Linked DNA regions of Homo sapiens: regions 1 and 2 are each linked to region 3. The links come from fine-mapping of genetic effects on gene expression. A gene starts in region 3. Each other region holds a variant in brackets. All regions are shown on one strand. Distances are from middle to middle. Region 1 has its middle 25 kb from the start of PARTICL. Region 2 has its middle 41 kb from the start of PARTICL. Region 3 holds the start of MAT2A (methionine adenosyltransferase 2A).

Region 1 (7,044 bases), 26 kb before region 3:
CACCGCGCCAGGCCATTTTATTTTATTTTATTTTATTTTATTTTATTTTATTTTATTTTATTTTATTTTATTTTTTAGATGAAGTCTTGCTCTATCGCCAGGCTAGAGTGCAGTGGTGTGATCTCGGCTCACTGCAACCTCCGCCTCCCGGGTTCAAGCGATTCTCCTGCCTCAGCCTCCCGAGTAGCTGGGATTACAAGCATGTGTCACCATGCATGGCTAATTTTGTATTTTTAGTAGAGACAGGGTTTCTCTAGGTTGGTCTTGTCTCAAACTCCTGACCTCAGGTGATCCACCCACCTCGGCCTCCCAAAGTGCTGGGATTACAGCACTTCACCATGTTGGCCAGGATGGTCTCGATCTCTCGACCTCGTGATCCGCCCACCTCGGCCTCCCAAAGTGCTGGGATTACAGGCGTGAGCCACCACGCCCGGCCAACTCTGTGCCTCTTTGATCAATTCCAGTGGTACCAGGTAAACTGCTTATGAGTGAAATTTAGAAAAACCTCCCCCAGCAGTGGGGGAAAATGCACAGTGCATAAGGCCTTATTTGGGTGAGGAGTTGGGGGAGTGAATGTATTAACCTTGTAGTGAAGTCACCTTAGATTCTAGTAGTTATGCTTCTTTCAGGAATATGACCACTCAGACCATAAAAGCTGGATGTGACCATGGTTTCATTTCTTTGGAAATGATTCTGCCAGAACAGGAACTGAGAATTTTTTCTCTGTGACCTCTGGGTGAGTTTGTGTTCCATGAGAACATTGGGCTTTGCATTTCTCAGTACACTGCTCTCATAGCTCTTGGGTTTGGAAGAGGTCACTGTCATCAAACTTTTTATGACTTTAGCCCTCAGAGAACCAAGGATAAAGGTGAATAAAGAACGCATCCAAGGTAGAAAGCTCCAACACCCCCGAGATGTTTACTTTCTATAAAACCTGGAGTCTCATGCCAGAGGGATTATATAAAAATAAAGCCAGGGTAGCCAAGTGCAAACCGTAGAGTTATCAACAGTGCTGTGAGATGAAGTCTTTTGTTCAAGGTCCTTTAATTGCCAGATGCAAAAGATAGTAAAATGGATTCTTTTATTCTTGAAACTTTGCCAGCCTCGTGGCTAATGCCCACTACAGCTGCATTAAAGGCTCTGAGGATCTCTGCCAAGATGTGATGATGGCCAAGAACCAGTGATGACTTCAGGGGACCTTTCTCAACCTGCCAGCCCTGCCATCTTGGCCTAGCCCACAGGCCACTGCCTGACCCAGTCTGATTTATAGCTCCCATGGGATCGCTGTCAAAAAAGGATCCTATGGGATCCTTCCATAGAGGCTAATATTCACAGAACGCTTTAGAAAACGAGCTTAAAGTTTAATGTTGAGGGATGTTGTGGGCCAAAGGGTGGTCCTGAAGGGAACTTCTCTGAAATTCTGTGCTAGGAGCTAGGACTCAGGCACAGTGTTATGTGTCTCAGGCACAGTGTTATGGAAAGAGCATAGGATCAAGGGACAAGAAGTCCGAGATCAGTTTTTTTTTTCAGCTTTATTTCAGTATAACTGGCAAATAACAACTGTACATATTTAAGGTGTACAACTTAACGGTTTTTTTTTTTTGGAGGGGGTGGGGTTGTTTTTTTTTTTTTTCTTTTATTTTGTTTTGAGACAGAGTTTTGCTCTTGTTGCCCAGGCTGGAGTGCAATGGCGCGATCTTGGCTCACTGCAACGTCTGCCTCCCGGATTCCACCAATTCTTGTGCCTCAGCCTCCCGAATAGCTGGGATTACAGGCGCCTGCCACCACACCCGGCTAATTTTTGTATTTTTAGTAGAGATGGGGTTTCACCACATTGGCCAGGTTGGTCTCAAACTCCTGACCTCAGGTGATCCACCCACCTCTGCCTCCCAAAGTGCTGGGATTACAGGCATAAGCCACTGTGCCCAGCCCCTGTTTTTCATTTTTTTAGAGACAGGGCCTCTCTCTGCTGCCCAGGCTGACTGCAGTGGCACAATCTCGGTTACACTGCAAACTCCACCTCCCAGGCTCAAGTGATCCTCCTGCCTCAGCCTCCCAAGTAGCTGGGACTATAGGTGCATGCCCCACACCTGGCTATTTTTTGATTTTTTGTAGAGATGAGGTCTTACTATGTTGCCCAGGCTGGTCTCGAAATCCTAGGCTCAAGTGATCCTCCCACCTCAGCCTTGAAAAGTGCTGGGATTGCAGGCATCAACCATCATGCTGGTCCAACTTAATGTTTTGATATAGGTATACATTATGAAACAATCACAATCAAGACCATTAACATATTCATCACCTCACATAATTATCTATTCATTATTATCATATTATTATTATTATTTTGAGACCGAGTCTTCCTCTGTCACCCATGCTGGAGTGCAGTAGCATGATCTTGGCTCACTGCAGCCTCTATCCCCGGGTTCAAGTGATTCTTGTGCCTCAGCCTCCCAAGTAGCTAGGATGACATGCATGTGCCACCATGCCTGGCTAATTTTTGTATTTTTAGTAGAGTCGAGCTTTCGCTATGTTGCCTAGGCTGGTCTCGAACACCTGGCCTCAAGTGATCCGCCTGCCTCGGCCTTTCAAATTGTTGAGATTACAGGCATGAGCCACCATGCCTGACCTATTATTTTTTATTTTGTTTTGTTTTGCTTTGTTAGAGTCTCACTCTGTCGCCCAGGATGGGGTAAAGTGGTATGATCTCAGCTCACTGTAACCTCTGCCTCCCGGGTTCAAGTGATTCTCCAGCCTTGGTTTCCCAAGTAGCTGGGACTACAGGCGTGCACCACCATGCCCAGCTAATTTTTGTATTTTTTAGTAGAGACGGGGTTTCACTATACGTTGGCCAGGCTGGCCTCGAACTCCTGACCTCAGGTGATCCACCTGCCTCGGCCTCCCAAAGTGCTGGGATTACAGGCATGAGCCACCACGCCCGGCCCTACTATTATTTTTTTAAAGGAAGTCTGAGGTTTACTCATGGATTCACCTCTGTGCTGGATATCTTCTGTTGCCTACTCCATCCGGGAGCCACTCCCTACTCTCTCTCTTCAGTGCCCAGGAGACTGACCTGTGTAGAAACCTCAGCAGGCTCCCTTGCCCTCTGGCTTCCAATAAGGCCAACGAGGGTCTCCTTTAGGGGATCAGAAGGAGGGAGGACAGAGGGGTTGGGTGTTAATTATCCTGAGTTCTTAGACCTAGGAGGTCTCTGTGCACTGACACTGCAGGCCTCTCCAGTTCTGGTGACCTGGCCCTCCTTCCTCCCTCCATGGCAAGCCTATGTAGCTCCCCACAACAACACACTGTCCCTGTGGCTTCCCTGCACCCTGCCCCTATTTTTGTAAAGAGTTCCTTTATTAGGTTCTGCTGAAATTACCCAACTGGAGTGTGCCCTCTGTTTCTTGCCAAGACCCTGACCAATGCAGCCACCAATGAGT[C/T]CAGTGACCCTGGTCACACCACTTAGGCCCCGTGGCTTTGGTTTCTTCATCTTTATTTATTTTTAATTTTTTTATTTTTTAAAATTTTATTTTTATTTTTATTATTTTTGGGTTTTTTTGAGATGGAGTCTCGCTCTGTGACCCAGGCTGGAGTGCAGTGGCAAGATCTCGGCTCACTGCAACCTCCACCCTCCAGGTTCAAGTGATTCTCTGGCCTCAGCCTCCCCAGTAGCTGGGATTACAGGCACCTGCCACCATGCCCGGCTAATTTTTGTATTTTTAGTAGAGACGGGGTTTCACCATGTAGGCCAGGCTGCTCTTGAACTCCTGACCTCAAGTGATCTGCCCACCTTGGCCTCCCAAAGTGCTGGGATTACAGGCATGAGCCACCGTGCCCAGCCTAAAATGCCAGTTCTTACACACTTGCTTCACGGGGCTTTCATAAGGATTATAATAGATATAAAGCACTAAACAAACATAATCTTTAAAAAAAAAAACATAATGTGCTTTCTAAGTTTCACAATTCCAGAATGCGTAAAAATAACAAGTTGTCTTTTATATCAAGATGCTGCTGCCAATACGCAACTGCTCAAATATGAACTCTGAGCAGTTTTTCTAAAATTCACGATGGTTTTTATTGAGTACGCAAAAGGCTAAACTAGATTTCACTCTGATAAACATAATGATATTACGTGACCCAATAATATTAAATCCTAAAATCTATCCCAAACCCAGGCAGATAAGACAGCTAAGATAAAAACATTTTTAATATGTTGTACCCAACAGGGTAGTAATGATTTGTATTTTATTAGAAAAACTCTAAATAAAGACATTAGTATATTTTTCATTTTAGAAAAACAAAAACAGCTTTGTTATCACCATTGGCTACCAAGATATGGTGCTGGAAAAAATATATTGCTAGATTTAAAAGATAGGTCCCCACTTTAAGTGCAAGTTTTGATGCATTCTGTGTGACCTTAAGCAAAGCATTTAATCCTTCTAATGTTTTTTATCAGGTCTGTATTCAGGTGAGAGTCTCTCACTTAAATATTAGATCAAAGTGAAAGTCCTTTGTAACTGAAATTGGGCTATTTGTAATTGATCCCCCAAGGCTTCTTTAAATACTGTCATCTCTGATTATTCGTATCTGATTAAGATATGGAGAGGAGGCACTGAGGGCTGCCCTGATTTGAGATTCACAGGGGAATGGCCCTAAGTCTTTGAGGAAGACAGTGAGGGGACCAGGCAGAGGGCCAGAAGTCCCAATTGAATTGACCTAGCAATTTTTTTTTTTTTAAGAACCGAGTCTCACTCTGTCATCTAGACTGGAGTGCAGTGGCGAGATCTTCGCTCACTGCAACCTCCGCCTCTTGGGTTCAAGCGATTCTCCTGCCTCATCCTCCTGAGTAGCTGAGACTACTGGTGTGCGCTACCACACCCAGCTAATTTTTGTATTTTTCGTAGAGATGAGGTTTCACCATGTTGGCCAGGCTGGTCTCGAACTCCTGACCTCAGGTGATCCGCTCACCTCGACCTCCCAAAGTGCTGGGATTATAGGCATGAGCCACCCTGACCTAGCTTTTAAGAGGTTTCAGCCATGCTATGTTGGCTACGGTCCAGACACAGAAGTGAGCTCAGGGGCGAGTAAGACAAAGGTCTTGCCTTCAAGGACTTTACTCTATAGCTAGGGAGCTCGGTGTAACATGAGGAAAATTAGTGCAGTTCACACAAAAAGCTTTTCAGGATGCAAGGGAGAGGCTGAGCCTCAAGTGGAGCCTGGGTCCGAGACAGGACATGGCACCTGTGCAGGGGGAAGGCTGGTTGTGGGGTGGGGCAAATGACCCTAGGAAGTTAGGACTGGGTGGGCTGCCCAGGTCTTCAAAGTCAAGCTTGATAAAGTTTGCATTCAATGCATTAAGAAATAGAAGACTACTGTGCATTTTTTAGCAAAACAATACCAAGGTAAGACCAGGCAAGTTTGCTCAGCCTGTAATCCCAGCACTTTGGGAGACTGAGGCGGGGGGTGGATCACCTGAGGTCAGGAGTTCGAGACCAGACTGGCCAACATGGTGAAACCCCATCTCTACTAAAAATACAAAAATTAGCTGGGTGTGGTGGTGTGCGCCTGTAGTCCCAGCTACTCAGGAGGCTGAGGCAGGAGAATCGCTCGAATCCAGGAGGCAGAGGTTGCAGTGGCCTGAAATAGTGCCACTGCACTCCAGCCTGGGCGACAAAGCCAGTCTCTGTTTACAAAAAAAAAAAAAAAAAGGGCGGTGGGGGGCGGAATAGGTTTTGCAGAGATAGGCAGGATGAAGGGGCAAGAATATAGGGGAAAAAAATAACACGAAGCAGATTTTTTTTCACTCCTTTAAAGACAACTAGATACTTGCGGTGTAGCCCAGGATGGGTGGTTTTACTCCTCTCACAGAAAAGTCCTTCCCACAATAATATTTGTTCTCCCTTTATCATATTTTTTTAAAACAAAGGTGTAAAATCAAGCAATGCTCTCCCTTTAAACATCGTTTATCTACCCTTCAGAGCAAGAAGCTTGTGCTATTGTGAGGTGAGTGTCGTGGCACTACAGGTCCCAAATCATATGGGGACTCTGCTCAGCACCCTATGGATTCACAACCACAGATTCCCACTCCTCACACTCCAGCTACAAAAAAATATATTGTATAGACATATATATGTGTGTGTATGTGCATTTTTTAAAAAGCATTCGTGCTTATGCAATATTAACCCACTGGTATTTCAGAGATGGTGACAGAGGTCCCATCTGGCACCCTTAGTTTCTTTGGGAATCAGCATTCCTTTATCAACTCACCCTGCAGACTTGGTTTAGCAGCAGAAACCTATCCGGCTCTCCCAGGCACCGGCTTTGGCCCTTCCTGCACAGCCTCGGAAGTGCCTGGATCACCTCCATCAGCAGCTATCGACCTCTGTCTGAAGTCCAAGTTGTTTGCTTACCTTTCCTGGGCTGAGTCATTAAAGGAAATGTATTAGTTTACTTTTTCAACTTCTCTATTCTCTAGAATTTAGCTTCCTTATTTTACACACGAAAGGATAAAGGAGTTATACTGGATATTTTGTAGCAGATTGGGGGTGGGGGGGCGAGGGTCGGGGGAGACAGAAGGAGGGCCTAATCTGCAATAGAAAAAGAGAGAATGATTCTTGTATTAATGTTTGTTTTTCATTTATTTATTTTTCCTGCATGATCATGTTCACCATCATGTCCTGAAAGGCAACACCTACAGGCAAAGAAGATGTGGAAGGGCCTGCACCACCTGATCGCCATCATCCCTGCCCTCTGGGGCCTGGCAATCCAGTTGGGCAGCCTGCACAGAATGACCTGTATTTTCTGGGCCAGGACAGAAGTCAAGAGGAAGGGGAGATGCACAAAGGCCAAGGTAGTCAGAGAAGGTTTAGATGAGAAGAGGCCCTGAAAGGTGGTTGGGACCTGGAAACAGCAGAGTGGTGGGTTCTGGGCAGGGAGATGCCCAAAGTGCAGCTGTGGCAGGGCATGATGGCTCACGCCTGTAATCCCAGCACTTTGGGAGGCTGAGATGGGTGGATAACCTGAGGTCAGGAGTTCAAGACCAGCCTG
Region 2 (7,044 bases), 42 kb before region 3:
ATTTCCTTGTCAATTGGGTCTTTAACTATGACGATTTTAAATTGTTTCCACAGTTAATTACTTAATTCTGATGCATTTTCTGAAAGCTCTTTACGAGCAAGTAAAATCATAGAGTGTTGTGTCTTCAAGGAGGTTCATGGAAAGAATATAAAGGACCCTGACAAGCACATCTTTTTTTTTTTAAAGACAGAGTCTCATTCTGTCACCCAGGCTGGAGTGCAATAGCATGATCTCGGCTCATTGAAACCTCTGCTTCCTAAGTAGCTGGGACGACAGGCATGTGCCACCATGCCCAGCTAATTTTTGTATTTTTTTGTAGAGACAGGATTTTACCATGTTGCCCATGCTGGTCTTGAACTCCTGGACTCAAGTGATCTGCCCGCCTCAGATTCCCAAAGTGATGGGATTACAGGTGTGAGCCACCATGACCGGCCATTGCCAGATTTTCATGCTAAATCAGCCAGTACTGAAATTGTTAGGATATGCAGTTTGAATGAACTCCATGGTCCAAGTCAGATTACCTGTGATAACCCAGTTTTTACCTATTTATTTATTTTGAGACAAGGTCTGGCTCTATCACCCAGGCTGGAGTGCAGTGGTGCAATCTCGTTTCACTGTAACCTCCTTCGCCACCCCTTCCCCATCCCCCACCTAAGCCCCGCAAGTAGCTGAGACTACAGACATGCACCACCACACCTGGCTGGTTTTTGTATTTTTTGTAGAGATGGGGTTTCACCATGTTGCCCAGGCTGGTCTTGATCTGTGAACTCAAAGATCCATCTGTCTTGGCCTCCCAAAGTGCTGGGATTACAGGTGTGAGCCACTGCACCAGGCCAACCCAGTTATTAAACAGTACTATTCACCTGAATTGGAAAAACAAAATTGGTATTGAAGAAGATATACATCCAATGTTAAGCATAAACTCATGGAGAGCCTGGACAGCTGCCTCATCCTTCCTGAATCCTTAAAGCTTCCACTCTTAGAAGCTCTGTACTCCATGACACATTATGGTAGAGATTAAATGATCCAAATAGAAAATGTGTGTGTGTGTGTGTGTGTGTGTGTGGTGTGACCGTTTTAAATTGCTAAAATGGTTTTTGACCAATGCTTAGTTTGTCAAATCCATAATCCTGGGGAAACAATAAAAACTTCAGGTACACTTCTGCTACCTGATTGGCCATTTGAACATTTATAGAGGGAGTTCATTCAATTGTCATTCGGAATGCATATTTTCTGGTTGTATAGAAGCTTTCCCACGAAAGAAGTCTGATGATATAACAGTAGCTAAAAGTTTATTAGGAAGTGTGTTTTTTTCAGGGGGCATTCCTGGAGAAATCTCCAGTGATAAATGTATTTGTTTCATTGAACAAATTGTAAAACAGTTAAATAAGAAACTACAGACAAAATAGTACTAGGCAAAGCTAAGTAAATCAACTGGATTGTCTTGGTCAAAGGTATTGCAGATTGATGACAATTAGATCCACTTTCAGCAGAAAACATCAGTTGACCCTTTATAAAACAGTCACTGGAAGGCCTATGCCCCTAATAATAGAAACTCATGACTAGGCGCTGTGGCTCACGCCTGTAACCCCAGCACTTTGGGAGGCCGAGGCGGGTGGATCACCTGAGGTCAGGAGTTCCAAGCCAGTCTGGCTAACATGGTGAAACCCCGTCTCTACAAAAATACAAAAATTAGCCAGGCATGGTGGTGCATGTCTGTAATCCCAGCTGCTCGAGAGGCTGAGGCAGGAGAATCCCGTGAACCCGGGATGTGGAGGTTGCAGTGAGCTAAGACTGAGCCACTGCACTCCAGCCTGGGTGACAGAGCGAGACTCTGTCACACACACAATAAAACCACACACACACACAAACAAAACAAAACAAAACAAAAACTCATGTATCTTCTGCTCCTAAACTTTGATATGGCTAACTGTGGCTTTAATGCATTATGCCAAAGTGCATTTTCACCAGGTAAGGAAGGTTTTCATGATCCACTGACTGAGGACAATTAAATCCTTCATGATCAAGAACATAGAGATTGGGTCTTCTAGAAACAACACACCTTGCCACCCACACTGCAGCAAAACTTTAGGACTTTGAACCTTGGGTCTGTAATCTCACAACTCAGAAGGGCCCCTCCAGACTCTTAGAACTGTATATCTGTTGGAGACCTCAAGATAAAGCTAACCAGGGAAGTTTCTCACCAGAAGCAGATGGAATCCTAGATGTGGAAAGCTTTCTCAAGATGACAGATCAAGACTTCTTTGCCATCATGAGACTCTTACCTCTCTTAATTTTTTCCTCGCTTATGCCTTTATGAAGACTAGAACTAGAAAAAGTCTTGTGTGGACCCATGGGGTATACTTTTATTTGTGGAGGATTTCACCGCTAACCTTATGCATGAGCAACCTTATGCCTTGATGGATAGAAGATGAAGGGCCAAAGTGGGTGAGGAATTTTCACGGTACCTTTGTAGCTCCATAATCAGTCAGAAACAGAACATTGGTCTATTTCTTTTAACCTACATTATAGGTTGAAGCAAACGTTGCCAGGAGGCCTTCACCCTTCTGAATGGGCATAATTCGTTAGGTTGCTTTTTCCATGATTTGGGGTAAATGAGGCAATGATTAGAAATTTGTCCCTCATAGTAGACTCTATAGCAGATTCAACTATAAACACTATGCTAAAGACTTCTTTAAACTTTTTGCTAAAGTTGTGCTACATAATAGAACTGCTCTAGGCTACTTACTGGCTGAACAGAGAAGAATCTGTGCAGTTGCTGACTACATATATATATATATATATACATACACACACACACACACACACACAGAGAGAGAGAGAGAGAGAGAGAGAGAGAGAGAGAGAGAGAGAGAGAGGAGAGAGAGAGAGACAGGATCTCACTACGTTGCCCGAGCTGGTTTCGAACTCCTGGGCTCAAACAATCCTCTTGCCTGGGCCTCCCAAAGTGCTGGGTTATAGGTGTAAGCCACCATGCCCAGCCAATTGCTGACACTTCTTGTTGCACATGGATGAATATGTCAGGTACTATAGAGATTCATTTGCAGGGGATTAAAAAACTGGCTGCTTGGTCGAAACTCGTAGACCATTTATCAAGCTTATTCTTTAATCTATTTAATTTTAGTTGGTTCAGTTCATGGGGACCCTGGCTAAGCAGCATACTCCAAACTCTTGGTATTGTCCTTCTGGTAGTCATAATAGTCATCTCCCTGGTGAAATATATCCTCTCAAAAATTGTAAATGTTTAATGCAGCCATGCATAGAATGTCAAATGGTCTCTCTTCAACTGGGATGACAAAATCTCAAAGAAATACATAATCATGAGGACACTATAACCTATGAAAGACATGTTGAGACCAGAAACCCAAAATGATCATAACTGAGAGTAGCAATTAGCGATGTTTTGGTCACACTCTCACTTAAGTGACAACATGATCAAAAGGGGAGAATTGTTCAACAAAATTATGGGAGGCCATTGTTTTGGACTGAACTCATGCACTAGGCCCCAACAGACTAGATTGGATCTAACCAAATGGAGTCAACTCATGCTAAATGCAGCACAATCAAACTAAAACTTTAAGGAAGCATATGGATCCCCAAAGAGACCAGATTTTTTTTCTCCAGAAAAGAGGGGATTATAGTATAATAAGGAAGTCGTCTCTGCTCTACCCTTTACAAAAAGGGAATCTAAATTCCTC[G/A]TTTCCACCTTATAAAACACAGTGTTCCACTATTTCTCAGTGGGATTTGAAACCAAGTAAGTCTATTTGCTATGGTGACAAAGTGACAGCAATACATAAAGTTTGGTCAACCTCTTCATTTTAAGAGGTTGACTAAAAGGAAGAAATTGTTCAATTAAGTTTAGCCTAAAGCTGCCTGCTTACATATTTTAAGTTTAGTCTGTAAACATATTAAACTGTAACCTAACTGGATGTGTAAACAGACAGTACCAATCACTGAGTTTTAGCAAATCACAGGTGGTCAACTGTTCAAACTATGTTCAAATAAAATAAACACCGATCTGTAACCAATATGGCTATTTCTATACATCACTTCCATTTTCTTTTTTAATTTTATTTATTTACTTATTTATCTATTTCGAGACGAAATCTTACTCTGTTGTCCAGGCTGGAGAGCAGTGGTGCAATCTTGGCTCACTGCAACCTCCACCTCCCAGGTTCAAGAGATTCTCTTGCCTTGGCCTCCTGAGTAGCTGGGATTACAGATGTGCGCCACCACACCCGGCTAATTTTTGTATTTTTAGTAGAGAAGGGGTTTCACCATCTGGCCAGCCTGGTCTCAAACTCCCGACCTCAAGTGATCCACCCACCTTGGCCTCCCAAACTGCTGGGATTACAGGCATAAGCCACCACGCCCAGCCTGACTTCCATTTTCTGTATGTCATTTTCCTTTTTTTGTTTTTGTTTTGTTTTGTTTTGTTTGAGACCAAGTCCTGCTCTATCATCCCCCAGACTGGAGTGCAGTGGGATGATCGTGGCTCACTGCAACCACCACCTCCTGGCCTCGAGTCATCCTCCCACCTCACCCTCCTGATTAGCCAGAACTATAGGTGCACACCACCACGCCTGGCTAATTTTTGTATTTTTTTGTAGAGACAGGGTTTCAACATACTGCCCAAGCTGGTCTTGAACTCCTGGGCTCAAATGATCCGCTCTCCTTGGCCTGCCAAAGTGCAGGGATTAGAGGCGTGAGTCACCACGCCCAGCCCATTTTCCTTTTCCTGTCCATAAATTCCTCTCTGACCACATGGCAGCATCAGAGTCCCTCTGGTTCAGGGAGTTACCGGATTCATGAATCATTCTTTGCTCAATTAAACTCTGTTAACTTTAATATGTCTAAAATTTTTCTGGCTGGGCATGGTGGCTCATGCCTGTAATCCCAGGCGGGTGGATCACCTGAGGTCAGAAGTTCAAGACCAGCCTGGCCAACATGGTGAAACCCTGTCTCTACTAAAAATACAAAAATCAGCTGGATATGGTGGTGGTGCCTGTAATTCCAGCTACTTAGGAGGCTGAGGCAAGAGAAACACTTGAACCCGGGAGGCGGGGGTTGCAGTGAGCCGAGATCGCGCCACTCCACTCCAGCCTGGGCGACAGAGGGAGACTCTGTCTCAAAAAAATAAATAAAATTTTCTTTTAACATGTGTAAGAGGCTGGGCGCCGTGGCTCATGCCTATAATCCCAGCACTTTGGGAGGCCAAGGCGAGTGGATCACCTGAGGTCAGGAGTTTGAGACCAGCCTGACCAGCATGGAGAAACCCCATCTCTATTAAAAATACAAAAATTAGCCAGGCGTGGTGGCAGGCGCCTGTAATCCCAGCTACTTGGGAGGCTGAGGCAGGAGAATCACTTGAACCCAAGAGGAGGAGGTTGCAGTGAGCCGAGATCGTGCCATTGCACTCCAGCCTGGGCAACAAAGCAAGACTCTATCTGAAAAAATAAAACAAAAACAAAACGTGTAAGAGGAAAGGTCTCATACTTACTAATATAAACGAATTGAGAACCAAATGCTCCATTCGCCTGTCCTGCTGCTCTGGAGATATCACCTCTCCCCTACTGCTTTTGAGGCCCAGGTTTTCAGTTATTCCCAGTCTTCTTTGTCCTGTCGTCCTTGCCTTCCCTCAAGCACTCATGACCAAAGAATAAGTAGGCCAAATAGATAACGTTCTTTAAAAAGAGTACAGAGTTCCTGACCTATTCATCTCCACTTTCCAAATACCTTTTGGCTTCAGCTTATCTCATTTTTGCAGCTTTAGCACCGAATGAAAACTGTGCATGAAGGAGCAGGCAGGTTCTCGCTTTGTGAAGCGTCTCCTTGTGCCTCGAGCTGGGGGAAGGGCTAGAATTGCAGTAACAGCAAGAGCACCCAAGAAATCGGTCTCAGTTTCCTTCCCCATTTTCAGAGGACAGTGGAGATCTCAAACAAAGCCAGCTAGGCACAGATTTCTTTAGAGCTTTGGGTTCTTTCCTCTACCAAACATTTTAAATTGTCATGTAAATTATACATTTGTCAGCTTTATCCTTTATGGCTTTTGGTTTTTCAGTCTTGCTTGGAAAGAAGTTTCCTAATCCCAAGACTTAGTTCTTCTTTATTTATTTCTGGTACTTTCATGTTGCTTAACTCTTCAATCCATTTGAAATTTATTCTGGGACTCTCCCCCAAATTAATGGCTTAATCCCTCTAATAGCATTTCTCCACTTCTTTGAAATGCCCCCTTTAAGAAGAAAATATTCTTCTATTCCCATAGTTGTTTCTGAATTGGATTCTGTTCCATTGATTTATTCCACTGATTCAGGGTCAGCACCACATTGTTTTTATTCTTATAGCTTCAAGGTATCTTTTGATATCTAAAAGGACATCCTCTTGTTTTTCTGATTTTCCAAATTTTTCTTGGTTGTTTTATACTTTAGTTTTGCAACCTAGAGCAAGTTATATAAGTCTGTGTCTATTTTCTCACCTGAAAAGGTTAAGATTGTGGGCTCTGCAGCCATATTGTCTGGGTACAAGTAAGGGTCCACCCAGGGAAACAGAGTCTTCTAGGTCTCTCTGGCAGAAGGAATTTAATACAGGGAATTGGCAGCACTGGAAATGGAAGGACTGAGAAGTCTAATGGAAGCACAAGACGCTACTATACAGGGAGTTACGTAGGAGGAGGTAGTGCAGCTAGAGCCCAGAGTGGGGGCCATCTGGTGGGATCTGAAACCCCATAGAGGCTGCCTGATGGGAGCTGAGATCATGGAGGGAGGGCCTGTAGAGTAGATGTGAGAGCCACCTAAGGACATAACTGTTGCCAGAGACACTACAGGAAGAAGAGAAAGAGAGAGAGATACCTTGGCTTCTCTCCACCTCCTCCCTCTCTCCCAGCTTTCCATTGGCTGAACCAACCTGGAAGCCAGAGAGCAAGGGAGCCTGGGAAACGCAGTTCTCTGTGATATAGCACAAAGGCTCAGAAAGGCAGAGAATTACTCCGAGAGGAAAAGGCAGTTGACCACAGCCGTTTATTAG
Region 3 (7,044 bases):
ACAGGCGCCCGCCACCACGCCCAGCTAATTTTTTGTATTTTTAGTAGAGATGGGATTTCACCGTGTTAGCCAGGATGGTCTGGATCTCCTGACCTCGTGATCCACCCCGCCTCGGCCTCCCAAAGTGCTGGGATTACAGGCGTGAGCCACCGTGCCCCGCCCCCTTCTGCCATCTTTATATTCGTTCATTTTCCGTTTCCTTCCCTTCCTTTCTTGTCTCTCCCTCTTGAACATTTCTAAGCACCTTGTGTGTGCCAGGCATTCAGTAACAAAGCTTGAGCAAAACAGCCCACCTTCTCATTATCATGGAGCTTACAAGCCTAACTGGGAATTGGAGACATTCATCAAATAATCACCAAATCTATAATTTGAAACTGCACTTAGTGCCATGAAATAAAACACAGGCCCCTGTGACAAATCTGTGTAGATGAAGGCTTCATCCAGGAAGTGGTAGCTGAGCTGGAGTGAGAAGGATAAGGAGTTAGCCAGGCATCTCCCCACATTTAGAGCGCCGAGTGGGCAGAGACCAGGATTGTTATAGCATTTGCTCCTGGGTCTGACTCACAGATGTGCTCATAAATATTTGTGGAAGGGAGGAAGGGACAATACGAATAATATAAAATAAATGAAAATGTGTCCTCCTTTGTTTTGATACTATGAAATTAATAAAATTAACTGCTACTAACTAAAAAATCCAAGTAGAACACAGAAAGGAGAGTGTGGCACAAGGTAAGGTTGCAGAAGTAGCAGCCAAATCACACTGGGGCCTTGAGTATGTAGAGATTTTAGTCCGTATCCCGACAGCAATTGAAAGCCACTGAAAAGTAATTCACAGCAAATATAGTTAATTTTTTTACAGCTTACATTAAAACAAATTATGTACTAGATACTGTGCTAAAGACTCTACTTGCACTATTTGAATCCTTGAAACAATCCTATGATGTACTATTAATATTCCAATTTTACAGAACGAGGATACTGATGCATAGAGAGGTCGTGACTCCAAACCCCTACTCTTACTGTATTACACCTACACACTATTCACAAGTGAGAGAAGTAGGTAAGCAACTATGTACAGCTAAATCTCATCTCCTTGGCAGGCCTAGCCCCACTGTGGAGTTGGTAGCACAGGGGTATCAGGATTTAATGAGCCAATCATTGACTTTACGCTCCTTGTTCTGACTCCCTAATAAAATAACCTTCTAGTTATATTCTGGCTTCCCATATAGATTTTTCTGCTGGGAGATAATGCACTGACCAGCCTACACACGCATTTTGTTCCAGTTGACAATTTTATTACACATTGTAAGTTAATAAATTGGCATTCTCCTTTAAAAAATAACAAAAAAATTTAATAGTCTTATACAGTTACTTTCCCATGAAGGGTTAGCTTGAAAAGTAAAAAGCAACGAATAAAAATATCATCACCTATTGTCTCTTTTGTGGTCGAACCTTTTCTTGCTGCCTGCTTTGAGCGACCGTGGATGTGGTCACTGAGTCTGGGGAGGAGCCCTTTATCTTCTTTGTGGATGCCCCCAGCACAGCCCAAGTGCTTCCTTTGTTTCCCACTGAGCCTTTAGCAAATCCCACCTTTCCTCCTGCACCGACGGAGAGGATTGTTCTTGGGAATGCACCTTGTTCTACTGCCGCCAGCAGTAGGCAGCTGGAGACTGTTACTAGGGGTCTCCTTCACCTCCCCAGCGTAAAGTACATCCCATGCTAGGAGCAGGCCGTTCCCTGAGAACCTCATTAAACCCGGCGTTCTTGTCACGCGCTCCGCTCAGGGCCACCAGGCCACCAGCCCGACCAGACCTGCACCGAGGCCCAGCCCCAGAACAGGCTGCAGAGACCCCCGCCCCCAAGGCGGGCTCCCTCCAAACGGGACTCCATACTCCTTGCTGGCTCAAGTTTTGTTTCGCTCTTTTTCCCTGTAATTCCTTTATTGGGCAAAACTGGGACAAACGCAGGTGGACATTTTAAAGTGAAAGCTTCATGAAACAGCCCATTCCACGCCGTCAAGAGATCTGCTTAAGCACATTCAAGGGAACGAATAGCCCCCACCCACCAAAAAAGAAATGTTCGTTCCATATTCTCCTGAACAGAGGATTGAAACATCGATTCCCCCCCCCTTCAAAGGAACAGGAAGGCCACGGGGCAAGGACGGACTTGGGAGCGGCCTCCTTTCTCTCTGGAGGGAAAGGCTGGAGCGCTGCCTCCACTTTTAAGTCCACGAACCACGAAGGGTGAGGATCCCTCAGAAACTTTAGCGCAGGGGAGCGGGCAGGAGGGCGATTGTTTAAATCGATGGCAGCACCTTCATTAATCTGCTTTCCGGCCATCTTCAGCAGAGCCATTCACCAGGAAACGACTAGAAGGTGGGCCTGCGCCCCTCAGATATCCCGGGGCCGGCAACGAGCCGGGCAGGGACGCCGAAGGAAGGCCGTGAGGAGCCCTCGCTGGCCGGCCAAGATGGCCACCTTCACATGGCCGACCGCCACCGGCTCCCTGCCACCCGGCATCTAGAGGCGGGACGGCCAGAAAGACCCCAGCCGCAGCACAAAACCTCCGCGATTCCCGCCGCCTCCGCTGGGGGACGCGACCTCCGGGAAAGCTATCCCGGCCAACGGTCGGAAGGGAGGTGCCATGTCACCGCACAGGGGAGCGGGTCCAGCAAGCCCCAGTCGCTTTTTCTCCCACATCAAACAAGGAAGAGCAATCCCCCACGTCTCCTCGCGTCTGCATTTTTCTCCTAGCTCTAGCGGCTCAAGATAGCTGAACGGTCTCTGGAGGGCCGGATTGCCACGGCACCTCCCGCGGCCGCGCAGTGTGGTTCAGCCCGGACTCCGCGGGGCGAGCTGCCCTTCCTCCCCCGACCCCCGCGCAAGTGGTGCATTGGCGCGCGGCGCCGAGGGGCGGGGCCCGAGCCGGGCGCGCGCGGGCGCTGCTCTATAAATACCGGGCCGCACCGCCCGCTGCTTCGTTCGCTCCGCGCCGCCCGCCTGCTACGAGTAGAACGCTGTCCGCAGCTTGCGCATTTCGCAGCCGCTGCCGCCTCGCCGCTGCTCCTTCGTAAGGCCACTTCCGCACACCGACACCAACATGAACGGACAGCTCAACGGCTTCCACGAGGCGTTCATCGAGGAGGGCACATTCCTTTTCACCTCAGAGTCGGTCGGGGAAGGCCACCCAGGTGAGGGGACGGCCTGAAGCGAAGCGTGGGGCGGGGCAGAAGGCAGCGCCAAGGTCCGGCTGGCTGCGGCCGGCCGGTGGTGGGGCCCGCGCGGGTCGTCCTCGTCCGCCGGGTGATGGAAGAGCGGCGACCGCGCGCTTTCCTCGTGGCGCCGCCAGGGCCTGGCGCGTGGCCGCCGCTCCTCTTCCCCCTCCCCTCTCCACCCTTCCCTTCCCCCCTCCCTTTTCATTCGGTCGCGCGCCTAGGCATGCGGAAGGTTCCAGAAAACGTGAAGGGCGGGGGCTGTGGTCGCTAGTGAGTTCTGGCCGGGAAGGGAGGGCACTGTTAACCCCTCCCGGCCCTGCCGTCTGACAAACCTGGAGTGGGCGACCCGCCCCGCGTGCTCGCGTCCGGCCCTCGGGAGCGCGCGCCCCGCATTGCAGCGGCGACCACGTGTTTGCCGCATGTGGTATCTGGGCGAGGGGGAGCCGTGAGCCTCCCCGGCTGTCCTGGCCCTCAGTTTGAGGGGTGGGGGGCCTATGCCTTGGGACGTCGTCTGGCTCCACTGCCTCAGTGGTTAGGTCTTGACTACACACTGGAGAATACGCACATGCCCTTCGGCGGATATGGCCTTGCCTCCAAGGTGACGGCCTCTGACTAAATATAGCTCATGTCCAAGAAGGCAGTCCTTATTTGGACCCCTTGTGAAAAGGATGGGAAGCATGAATTAGGAGCTGCCATTGCTTTGGGTTCGCATTTAAAGTCTTCGGTGCAGGGTTTTACTTGAGGCTTTGTCCGCTCAACCGCCATTATGGGGATCAATTGGCACGTGAAGGAGGAGTAAAGCTATATTTCCAGGAACTGAAAATCTCAGCCTGAGCATATCGGCTAGTAAAGATGATTATTTGGCTCTTTTGGCTGTTTCTGCCCTTAGGATGACCGCAGTAGTTATCTATCTGGTGGCTTTAGGGTCTGGTCAGTTTACTGTGCCCATGATGAAATCCCACAAGTAACTTAGTGGTATGAGAGGACAAACCCAGGATCTTGATGAGTGCTGAAGGTTAGCTGTTACACCAGTTAGTAGTAGACCGAAGTTCAGAGCCTGCAGTCTGGCTTCCACATTATGTTTGGATTCTGTTTTAGGCGGTTATAGAAAATTCAGAAAAACGAACTTGAATTAGGGAGATATTTGTTCTCCCTCCTAACAATAGATGACAAAGCAGGGAGACATGGATTCGGAATACGTTTGAGCATCTTCTACACTGTTGAGCTTTTGTTTCCTGCGCAACTCCTAACAGCAAAATCAGATAATTGCCATTTTAGTCAGAAAATGCTTTTCATTTAATTGTTTAATCGAATTATCTTGTTGCTCATTATAATTGGTGTTCCTTAAGATTAGGGAAACTGGCCTACCTGTGGCCTCAGTTCTACCAGACTCCCAGGTGCAGAGGGGTTTGGTACAGTTGTGGAAGTGAATATGATATAGGGCAAATTCTGTTCTTTAAAGGATATAGGACTAACAGTTCACCTTTCTGGTGATTAGATTTATAATGCAAACTTTGAATTTTAGGAGGAAAGTGCAAACACAATGAATTAAGATGTATTAAGCATGTTTTTTAAAATCTCCAAAGATTTTACAGATAGTAACAGGGAGGGAGCTTGCATACATACATACATACTTTGTTTAAAGTTAAAGAAACTGAGCCAGGAATTTCTCTTTTCCAGATAAGATTTGTGACCAAATCAGTGATGCTGTCCTTGATGCCCACCTTCAGCAGGATCCTGATGCCAAAGTAGCTTGTGGTAGGTTCAGAATGTGCTTATCAACTGGTGGAAAGATAGCATAAAAATTATTTTTATAGAAGTGATGTTTGAGTTGAATGTCTCTTTTTATTAGAAACTGTTGCTAAAACTGGAATGATCCTTCTTGCTGGGGAAATTACATCCAGAGCTGCTGTTGACTACCAGAAAGTGGTTCGTGAAGCTGTTAAACACATTGGATATGATGATTCTTCCAAAGGTGTGTTTTAATGATTTTGCTCATTTTTTTCTAGGTAACAGCTGTGAGGTTTGAAGAAACTCCTAGAATGTTCCTGCTAATCCTAAACTCCAGTTGTATCTTACTATACACTAAGCCCTATTCTGTTCATTCTCTAAAAGGTCCGATGGTTTAGGTATATTTGATTTCTTCAGCAGTGTTTAGAATTCCAGATAATTGCTGTAAACAGCAGGTATTTCTAGGACGTAAACAAGATGTTGTGTTTTTTGCTTATAGGTTTTGACTACAAGACTTGTAACGTGCTGGTAGCCTTGGAGCAACAGTCACCAGATATTGCTCAAGGTGTTCATCTTGACAGAAATGAAGAAGACATTGGTGCTGGAGACCAGGTATCTTGGTGTAGAGGCTGTTTTAATCTCTTCTAACATTAAATTCTGGAGCTTGATCACATTGGTGACTTTTCTTTCTTTAGGGCTTAATGTTTGGCTATGCCACTGATGAAACTGAGGAGTGTATGCCTTTAACCATTGTCTTGGCACACAAGCTAAATGCCAAACTGGCAGAACTACGCCGTAATGGCACTTTGCCTTGGTTACGCCCTGATTCTAAAACTCAAGTAAGTGATGATCATAAAGCTTGGTTGTCTCATTTATTACATCAGCACAGAAGATCCATAATTTTGATAATAGCTAACTGGAAAAAATAGCATTTGTTTTCCTATATTGTAACTTCAGGTAGAGAAACAAATACAAAGTTATTGTTTGGTGTGATGTTCTGATGACCTGTGTTGCCTTCAAGGTTACTGTGCAGTATATGCAGGATCGAGGTGCTGTGCTTCCCATCAGAGTCCACACAATTGTTATATCTGTTCAGCATGATGAAGAGGTTTGTCTTGATGAAATGAGGGATGCCCTAAAGGAGAAAGTCATCAAAGCAGTTGTGCCTGCGAAATACCTTGATGAGGATACAATCTACCACCTACAGCCAAGTGGCAGATTTGTTATTGGTGGGCCTCAGGTAATGTCATTTTGTTGCATTTTTCTGGATTTTTGATGGTTACTTAAAATTTTGGCTACTACATTTTTTTCAGGCTTTCTGAAACCTACATGTGAATCATCGGAGGATATTTGCTGAATGAATTCAGAATAGGCAACCTAATCCACTTGGAAAGCACTAGGCGTAAAGTAACTTAAATCCTGTAATTTCAGGGTGATGCTGGTTTGACTGGACGCAAAATCATTGTGGACACTTATGGCGGTTGGGGTGCTCATGGAGGAGGTGCCTTTTCAGGAAAGGATTATACCAAGGTCGACCGTTCAGCTGCTTATGCTGCTCGTTGGGTGGCAAAATCCCTTGTTAAAGGAGGTCTGTGCCGGAGGGTTCTTGTTCAGGTATACACTCTTTATATAACGAACGATTAAAAGTCATGTAAGTGGGAGGGTATTTAGTAGTAATCTACTTAACTACTTGTTTTATACCAACGTATTATACAAGTATATGGGTCTTTGCAATCACTGATTCTTACGACATTTGAATCCTTTTAGGTCTCTTATGCTATTGGAGTTTCTCATCCATTATCTATCTCCATTTTCCATTATGGTACCTCTCAGAAGAGTGAGAGAGAGCTATTAGAGATTGTGAAGAAGAATTTCGATCTCCGCCCTGGGGTCATTGTCAGGTAAAGATGGTAAAGCCTGTTGCTAGTCAAGTATTGAGGGTGTTGGGTGTGTGTGTATATACTTAAGGCTGAGGAGGTGAAGGTGTGAAGGAAGACTCCTCAAATGGGAATATATTTTAATTCCTGGAACAGTTTTGAACTGCTGCCTTAGTGAAGACTTAGTTATTTGAGAAATTTAAAATTACGGTGCTCCATGGC

The links. PIP is the estimated chance that this variant, and not a neighbour inherited with it, causes the effect.
Region 1: its variant is fine-mapped to the expression of MAT2A in whole blood (TOPMed, PIP above 0.99). The same link has a PIP of 0.9 or more in blood mononuclear cells.
Region 2: its variant is fine-mapped to the expression of MAT2A in whole blood (INTERVAL, PIP 0.96).

Annotation. Positions count from the first base shown.
Region 1 is chr2:85,510,472-85,517,515 of GRCh38, forward strand. No RefSeq gene overlaps it. Among named protein-coding and RNA genes, the nearest start is that of PARTICL, 25 kb to the right of the region's middle. RefSeq lists a silencer at 2,877-3,056. The variant C/T (reference allele first, on the strand shown) is at 3,438.
Region 2 is chr2:85,494,512-85,501,555 of GRCh38, forward strand. No RefSeq gene overlaps it. Among named protein-coding and RNA genes, the nearest start is that of PARTICL, 41 kb to the right of the region's middle. The variant G/A (reference allele first, on the strand shown) is at 3,720.
Region 3 is chr2:85,536,189-85,543,232 of GRCh38, forward strand. It overlaps MAT2A (methionine adenosyltransferase 2A), which reads left to right and starts at 2,980. Exons shown (of 9, transcript NM_005911.6): 1 at 2,980-3,190; 2 at 4,895-4,972; 3 at 5,067-5,189; 4 at 5,445-5,557; 5 at 5,641-5,784; 6 at 5,967-6,185; 7 at 6,377-6,559; 8 at 6,713-6,846. The coding sequence starts at 3,100. It overlaps PARTICL (promoter of MAT2A antisense radiation-induced circulating long non-coding RNA), which reads right to left and starts at 2,698. Exons shown (of 1, transcript NR_038942.1): 1 at 1,279-2,698. RefSeq lists enhancers at 1,898-1,987, 2,388-2,597, 2,668-2,757 and silencers at 2,788-3,057, 3,238-3,567.